Linked DNA regions of Homo sapiens: region 1 is linked to region 2. The links come from fine-mapping of genetic effects on gene expression. A gene starts in region 2. The other region holds a variant in brackets. All regions are shown on one strand. Distances are from middle to middle.

The links. PIP is the estimated chance that this variant, and not a neighbour inherited with it, causes the effect.
Region 1: its variant is the best candidate, but not a certain one, in a credible set for the expression of FOLH1 in esophagus mucosa (GTEx, PIP 0.66).

What each region holds. Positions count from the first base shown.
Region 1 is chr11:49,305,255-49,309,661 of GRCh38, forward strand. It overlaps the pseudogene NOX4P1. Among named protein-coding and RNA genes, the nearest start is that of FOLH1, 99 kb to the left of the region's middle. The variant T/C (reference allele first, on the strand shown) is at 2,715.
Region 2 is chr11:49,205,947-49,210,353 of GRCh38, forward strand. It overlaps FOLH1 (folate hydrolase 1), which reads right to left and starts at 2,656. Exons shown (of 19, transcript NM_004476.3): 1 at 2,346-2,656; 2 at 121-226. The coding sequence starts at 2,463.

The DNA.
Region 1 (4,407 bases), 99 kb after region 2:
CAAATCCGCAAGGCTTGTTTTATCCAGGCTTGGCCAAGTTAAATATGTTCCCTGTATTTTTCCCTTATGTTTGGAGATCTAGCAAAATATTCCTCATTATACTGTTTATTGAAGTGAAAACTTGTATGTGATTGTATGAATGCCTAATAGTCTTGAAGTAAAGGCCGTCAAATTCAACAATGCCTGGAGAGATTGCATGTATTCTTTTCTACTGCATATTTATAGCATTTGTTTGGAGTGCCAAAATTTTTGTTTTAGTCCTATAGATAAGAATTTCTTAACATTTTTTAAGATTTTTCAATTTCTCCTAAACATAATACATAAGGAACACTTTTTAGATAAATGTTGTGTAAAGTTAGCAAAAAAAAAAACAAAAACAAAGACATTATTTTCTTTTACCGTGTCCCCTGATCTCAAATCTTTTCATTTCTCTGTTTGTTTTTTTTTTAATTTAATTTTAGAGGGCTGCTGAAGTATCAAACTAATTTAGATACCAACCCTCCCGGCTGTATCAGTCTTAACTGAACCAGCTCTCAGAATATTTCCTTACCAGAGTATATCTCAGAACATTTTCATGAACCTTTCCCTGAAGGATTTTCAAAACTGGAAGAGTTTACCCAGAACACATTTGTGAAGATTTGTATGGAAGAGCCCAGATTCCAAGCTAATTTTCCACAGGTCAGATTAATTTTGTGTTTGATCTCCACAAAGTTTGTTTCCATTTGACTGATCAACATCACATATAAATGTGTTTTTCAAGCTATATATTCATGCATAATAGGATATTTCAGGATGTTTCAACAGTAAGTTAGTACCTATTATTCCATTACAGGTACTTGACAGTTGAATGCAAAAGATCTATGGTATTAGAGGATATATAACATTTCTACTTAACTGACCATATGAGCTTTGCATACAACAGCACTGGTGCTTGCAGCCAAGAGATGACAAATATTTTTCCCATCATTTGAGAAAAGCTGATTTAATAATAAAAATAGTAGTAAAAAAACTACCACCAATATCACAAATTATTATTTTATTGTATTATAATATTATGTATAATATTGTAAATAGTAAATAGCAAAATCAGTTGATTGAATGCTTAATATTATCTGCCAAGCATTGTGCTAAAATGTCCCGTATGCCTAATACAGAACACTTATTAGACATACAGAATGTTTCTTGCAATATTCGCAATGACTATTTGAGGTAATTAATATCACCCTCGATTTTCTGATAAAGAAATTGTACTTACCTTAATCAAAGTCTCCAAACCAGTAAGTGGCAGAGGAAGCATGTAAACACAGGTCTTTGACTAATATGCTTGCTCCTGGTAAACGTCCATAAGTATTCAGCAATTAGTTCAATAAGGGCCCTTATCTTCCTCTGTGCCTGTGAGAACTACCCCCATGCAAATTACACTGTTTATTCCTCATCTATAAAAAGTGGAAGTAGGAAATAGTGATGTCAAATGTCTCTATTGGAAGAGAAGAAAGAGAAGTCAAAAGCTAGAATGAATTTGTAGATGACTTTGGAATAGTGTATTAGTGATGTGTTTATTATTATTAATAATAATCCTCTAGATCCCTACTAGTCTCTATAATTTTCAGAACTTTTCTGAGTTTCACATAATATTCACAAATATTAGACAGGGCAGGTATGGTGACTCCCGTTTTGCTCATGTGGGACCTGACACTCAAAGAGTAAGTGATTATCTCAAAGGTGCAAGGCTGCTACATTGCAGACCTTGTCTTGCAATGCTACTCATAACACAGTGTGGGGCTAAATGTTATTATATGCAGAAGAGGCATGATCTGTCTGCATGAAAGAAAGAAGATTTGAAACAACTAGAGTGAGGCTTTAAAAAGTGACCATTAAGACAAGTTTTAGTTGGAGGCCTCAAAGGGATGTGAAAGATAAAGTGTGTAATTTTAAGAGAACAGTAAGCCACATAGGCTTCTGCACGTCCCAAAGTTTGCATGTGTCCTGGGATCAGGGCTAACCATGCAACACATATTCAAAATTGTCAGGTTTCCAAATTATAAATATTATTTTATGTTCTTATTATATTATATAAAAGTAAGTGGTAAACAACATGCCTAGCATAATGCATTTTTAAACATATGTGCTATACATATTTAACATATATACACATATGTATGTATATTATGCATATACATTATGTACATTAAAAATCTAGGGTTTTCTTATTTAATAAACATTAGACTGTTACTTTATTTCTAAAATTATCCCCATATTTATCGGAGATTGTTAACTTCCCTGTATTCTTTTATTAAATATGTTGTGTATATACATTACATATCTGTAGGCATAGAAAGGTGTATGAAAGAATATACACTTGTTTGTTCATGGATAGTTACACCCAGAGCATGAGAATGAGGGCAGGGTCTTGATATTACTTTGTGTTTTATTTTATACTTTTGTTTGTTTGAATGATAGTGAGCATCTATTGTTTTTTACTCATTTATTATATTTTCTTATTTAAAATACAAATTAAAATACTATTACTGTAATGTATGCAATGAGCAATTGGGCAGGGTGTAGATTTCTACAATACGAGTATTTCTTGAAGTATATTTTCAAAAATTTGTCTTAGACTTGGCTTTGGATTTCTGGACCTTTGTGCCTGTACTGTGCTGAAAGACTTTACAGGTATATGCGGAGCAATAAGCCAGTCACCATCATTTTGGTCA[T/C]AAGTCATCCCTCAGATGTCATGGAAATCCGGATGGTCAAAGAAAATTTTAAAGCAAGACCTGGTCAGGTGAGTCAGTGGTCAGCAACTTTTTAAATAGCCTTTATCCTTATGTAATTTTTGGAATTTAGCAAACATAGCATCGTTGAAATAGTTGCAATTCTTAATTGGTCATTTAAAACTTATCCGTTTTTTGCTTTTTAGTATATTACTCTACATTGTCCCAGTATATCTGCATTAGAAAATCATCCATTTACCCTCACAATGGTAAGAAACATATCTCGTGCTTTTTCACATTTGTAGGGTGCTATGCATCTTTTTCTTTTTTTGTGTCCTATCTCATTCTAAAAGGTATTCAAGGCTATCATAGTATTCTTGATGTTTAAGTAAGCCATCTTTTTACAAGGAAAATAGTTATCTGCTCAAGAACTTTGTAACTACTCTTTATTATTTTTTGACACCTTACAATTCAGGAAGTAATGTATTAAAACATATTAAAGCTTGTTGATTCAAAATACAGGCCAAGCACTGTGACTCATGCCTGTAATCCCAGCACTTTGGGAGGTCAAGGTAGGAAGACCACTTGAACCCAGGATTTTAAGACCAGCCTGCGAAACATAAGGAGACCCCGTTTCTACAGTAAATAAATAAATAAAAAAGCCAGGTGTGGTGGTACACACCTGTAGTCCCAGCTACTAGGAAGGCTGAGGCAGGAGGATTGCTTGAGCCCCAGTGTTTGAGGTTTCATTGAGCCTTGATCCCACCAGTGCTCTCCAGCCTGGGCAAGAGAGTGAGACCTTGTCTCAAAAAAGAAATTTTATATATATATATAATTTCTTGAATATTTACTTTTCTCCTTTTATGGAGTATTTTAATGTATATGGAAATCTAATATATGCACAATTTTCTTTGGAGATGGAATTTAGGGGAAACACAGATACTCTGGGTTGAGGTGGAAGCATTAAACAAAACAGGCAGTGTTTAGAAAAGGTAAAATCCAGTGTAATGGGAGAGAGAATGGGAAGTAAAATTAGAAAAATCAAATGGAGTAAATAATGGCATGGGAGGGCATCTAGCTAAATAATGGACACCATCAAATATGATTAGATAGTCAGCATATCATTTAATATTATTATAAAAATAGCATGAGTTCATTATAAACATTTAGACAATTCACAGATATAAAATAAAATAGAAACTTAAAAAAAATTTTCCCCACTTTCCAATCCTTTTCTCTACTGTTTGACATATATCTTTCCAGATATTTTCCCATAAGCTTCTGCATACATGAGTTTCTAATATTTATTTGCTGGATCATATTGTTTTGTAACTGGCTCCTTTCACTCAACTACATGTGATGGACATCTTTCCATATTACTGTATGTGCCTCATTCATGTTAATGACCGTATAATATTTCACAGTAGGAAAGTACTGTAATTTATTTAATATTCTCACTAATGTTGGATATTTGGACTTTATTCATTTTCTAAGAAAGATAATTGAGAGCAGAGACCACATGTTTAAATGTATATTTAAGAAAGATAGCAAAACTATTTTATATATATGGTATGTATACATGCATACAGATGGAAACATGTTGTAAAGCATGTTGTAAAACATGTTCCCATCTGTCTGCATCTATACATCCCATATACATGAAATTGGTAACATGAAAATAGAAGGGAATGATTGA
Region 2 (4,407 bases):
TCTTTAATAAATAAAATTTTAAGAAAAAAGTCCAGTTCCTATATATAAAATATTGGACCAAAACAGAATGATAAATTTTTCTAACAACTTGTCCATATAAACTTTCGAGGATGTACTTACTATAAGAACTTCTTGATGTTCTCAGCTTTCAATTCATCCAAAAATGCTTTCATATTATGCTTTGGAGTAATGTTAGTAGCTTCATTGGAGGATTTTATAAACCACCCTGAAAAATACATCCAAAAATAGGCATGAGATACGAGCCTATAGATAGGACTTATTTTTCATTATTGTTGTATGTATTATTTGTAAAACACAAATTATCAATATTACCTCTGACATTAGGTGAGATATTTCTGAATTTTAATTTCTCTTGCCTACTTTCACTGAAAAAGAGTCATGCAAACAGATTTTTAAGTTGCAAACCAATTGCAAAATATTTCTTATCCAACTTCAATGATAGGTATTGCTGTTATTCTAAGAAATGTTTTATGAGATAATCAGGACGAAAATAAAATGACATTAATGTTTCAACTAATGGGTGTAAACGAGATGTTCTGAAAATGAAGGCAAAAAGGAGATCCACCTTCTACTTTCATAAAGTTTCTATCTTCCTCTGCTGACTCAAATAAGCATTTAATACATTTTTATAACGAATTAATTATGAATATATTTCAAATAAATAAATTATTTCCAAGTGTTGAAGGAAATTCAGACTTCTAATTTGCTCTGATTCTGAAACTAAAACAAAATGCTGTGAGAGTTTGCGTTTCCAGTGAAGTAGGCGTGAGAAATCCAAGTTCAGACAGCTACAATGAAACTACAATTTACCCAGCCTCTCTGCCAGACACCCAGTGCACGCATAGGCGGCCAGAAACAATGGATAGCTAGATCCTGCAGTCATTAGACCTTGCAGTTGGCTTTTAACCTGAAGGAGATAAGGCAAGATTCCAGGGTTTATTTAGAGAAATTACAGGATCTGGGAATAAAGTAGTTACAAAATTAGTCCCCAACCAGCTTTCATGGAGCTTTCCAATTATTAATTATTCTAGTTCTTAATCGCATGCATACAAATGCACATACATATATACATGCATATTAAAATACATGATTGCACGCAAACGGAAATAAGATTCCACCTGTGCATAAAACAGAAAGACTTGGATTAGAGTGAGGGATCAGGAAACACCACACTGAGGACGAGATGCTTGAACTGAGATCTGAAAAATGAACAGGATGAAGAGGATGGAGGCCTGTAGGGGGAGGGGAGAGCAGAGAATCCTAGTGGGTGGGGGGCGGACATCAATAAAGAACTCTTCTGTGTCAGCCACTGAGCACGGAATACAGGGATGAGAGTGAGGGCAATACCAGGAAGAATAAAATCCTTTTAAGAGATGAAGATTGTTATGAGCACAGTGTGTGGTTCAAAAATCTTTTAACAACCCCAAGGTGAAGCTAGTGGAAGATATTGAATTTGTTTAAACCCATCTGGTCCATGCCCTGTTCTTCTAAATCCCGAAAGAGGGTCAAGAATTCCGAGCAGGAGTGGACTACCTGGTGATACCTTAGACTAGTCCTGTGTATTAAAGTCCAATGAGGAGTATCTTGGTAAAAGAAGAAATAAAGTGGCGAAAATCCCAGTACTGTGCTAGGAGATTTACATGCTATATTATTTACTATTACCAATAATTTGCAGATAATATTATCCTCATCATAAAATAGGGTAACTAACGCTGAGAGGGACTCGGTAACTTGTTCAAGGCCACTAAGAAGTGGCAAAGTCAAAACTGGAATTTAATAAAAGAGTCTGAGCTTGCCTGTGTGGTTCTGCTTTTCTTAGAAAGTTGGATCAAGTCTGCAAATCAGTACCCAGGAAAAACAGCAAAAGACCCGCTGGTAAAGACCTGTCCAGATTGCTGACCTGGTTCACACAGTTCCCAAGCTTGCCTCTGTTACTTCCAAGGAAGAAAGAATGCACAGAGAGGTAAAAAAACAAACAAACAAACAAAACAAAACAAAACAAAACAAAAGCAAAAAAAAAACTTCCTCTGTCTTGCAGGGCTCCAGCACTTGGAACCTTCCTACGCCCAGTTTCAGGTTCTCTCAGTTCTACCCTCAACCTGAGTGACTGTCCTACCAGCAGCTTGTCGAGAACTCAGCCCTGCACCGTTCCCAGCTACCCTCCTCCTAACTCGAGGGGTGCTCACCCCACATTACCCCGACCCTAATCGCCGCCCCTGGGGAAGACCAGCAACAGGATCCCACTCGGCAGCTGACCCGCGAGTCCCAGCACCGCGGCACCACGGGGAAGACTCCGAGGTTTGCTCCGCGAGGCGCCCCCCTACCGAAGAGGAAGCCGAGGAGAAAGAAGCCACCCGCCAGCACCAGCGCCCCAGCGCACAGCCAGCGCGGGCGGCGCGCGGTGGCCACAGCCGAGTCGGTTTCGTGAAGGAGATTCCACATCTCGGCGCGAGCAGAGCCGGCCTCCCGGGACCCGCGCCTGTGCTGCTGCTCTACTGCGCGCCCTCCAACCACCACGGCGGGGTAAAGTCTCTCTCAATCTCACTAATGCCTCGCTTATCAGCCCTGCAGGCTGGAATTCGCTCCAGACCTGGGGTCCAGTTTCTCCACCACAGCAGTGTTTCTAGAGTGCACTGAACCAATCCGAGCGAGAGAGAGAGGCAACATCTGCCTCCAGGAGAAGGAAATCCGGCCCCTTTTGAGAGGCGCCTTAAAAAAAAAAACTTTCTTGGAAAATGTCCAGCTCTTGCTTAAATATAAAAATGAAAGGAAGAAAGAGACTCTCCTCTCTCCACTCCTATAATTATGAGGAACTTTTATTCAACTCTGAAATTCTATACAATCTCTACAATACTCTACTGAATAAAAGCAGAGCAGAAAAAGCTGCGCTTTTTTTCCATAGTCGGGAATGCTTGTCATCAGTGTAAATCACCACCGCGCCCTTTTTCCTAAAGAATATTATTGTTATTAATAAACATGTAGGGTATTATCCTCCACTTACATTACAAAACCATTTTTTAAAGCCGGGCGTGGTGGCTCACGCCTGTAATCCCAGCACTTTGGGAGGCCCAGACAGGCGGATCACGAAGTCGAGAAATCGAGACCATCCTGGCCAACATGGTGAAACCCCATCTCTACTAAAAATACAAAAATTAGCTGGGCGTGGTGGCGGGCTCCTGTAGTCCCAGCTACTCAGGAGGCTGAGGCAGGAGAATCGCTTGAACCGGGGAGGCGGAGGTTGCAGTCAGCCAAGATAGCGCCACTGCACTGGAGCCTGGTGACAGAGTGAGACTCCCTCAAGAAAGAAAGGAAGGGAAGGGAAAGGGAAGGAAGGGGAGGGGAAGGGAGGGGAGGGGAGGGGAGGAAAGAAAAGAATACTGGAACTTGTTGAAGGCAGAGACTTTATTTTCATATCCCGGCTATGTCTGGCTACTGTCTTACGTAATAGATATAAAATCAATCTTGGTTGGATTAACCAGAAGAATCATCATACAAAATTATATCCCCGCTATAAATTCTTAATAATAATAATCGTATTTCAAGGGAGAGAATAGCTACATGCTTTATAAAATAAACTGTGTTCTTATAATCCGTGAGAGAGGCCGTGCATTTGCTAGGAGTACTTTATGGAAGCACTGCTTTTAACAGAACCATAAGGTACAGGTAGGATTTGACCCAGTGGAGATGAGAAGAAACATTAGGGGCCATGGGCCAGCTGAGTAGGCAAAGGCAGAAAACTCAGAGTGTATTCAAGGAATAGCAAACAGTTTGCTTTGAGAAAGGGAGAGCACAGTATGAGTTAAGTGGAAAAAGATGGACTAGATTGTACAGTCTTGGGTGCTTCGATGTAGACTTTCTGAGCAAAGTGAAAAATTTGGGAAAATTAATTTGTCAACAATGAACCATGACAACTCCTAGATGACCTAGGGCAGGAAGGAAGGGAATTTCTTCATCTCTTTCTAACAAAATCCTGAATGTACTATATCTTTCCTAATGTTCCTATTGTCAAATCTAATCAGAGATGGCTAATAATAGTGACTAATATTTAAAGAGCACTTATTATGAGTGATGCATGTTATGTACATCACCTCATTTAATCACCATTGGGACCCTTCAAGGTTTGTTCTATTACTCTTCCCGATTTACACATGGTAAAACTGAAATTTAGCTAGATTAGGTAAGTCATTCGAAGTCACAAAGCTAAGACTTAATATAATGTCTGTCTTACTTTGTACCACTCTACAGTCTCTATTCAGCACAGGATACCTTTATGGAGTTTGCTTGTGGCACTGGAGGGAGCACTGAGTTTGGAGTCAGAAGACTCTTAACAGTCTTTGGACCTGGTCCTGTCCAAGCTGTGTACCCCTGGGTGCTAAGTATTCAACT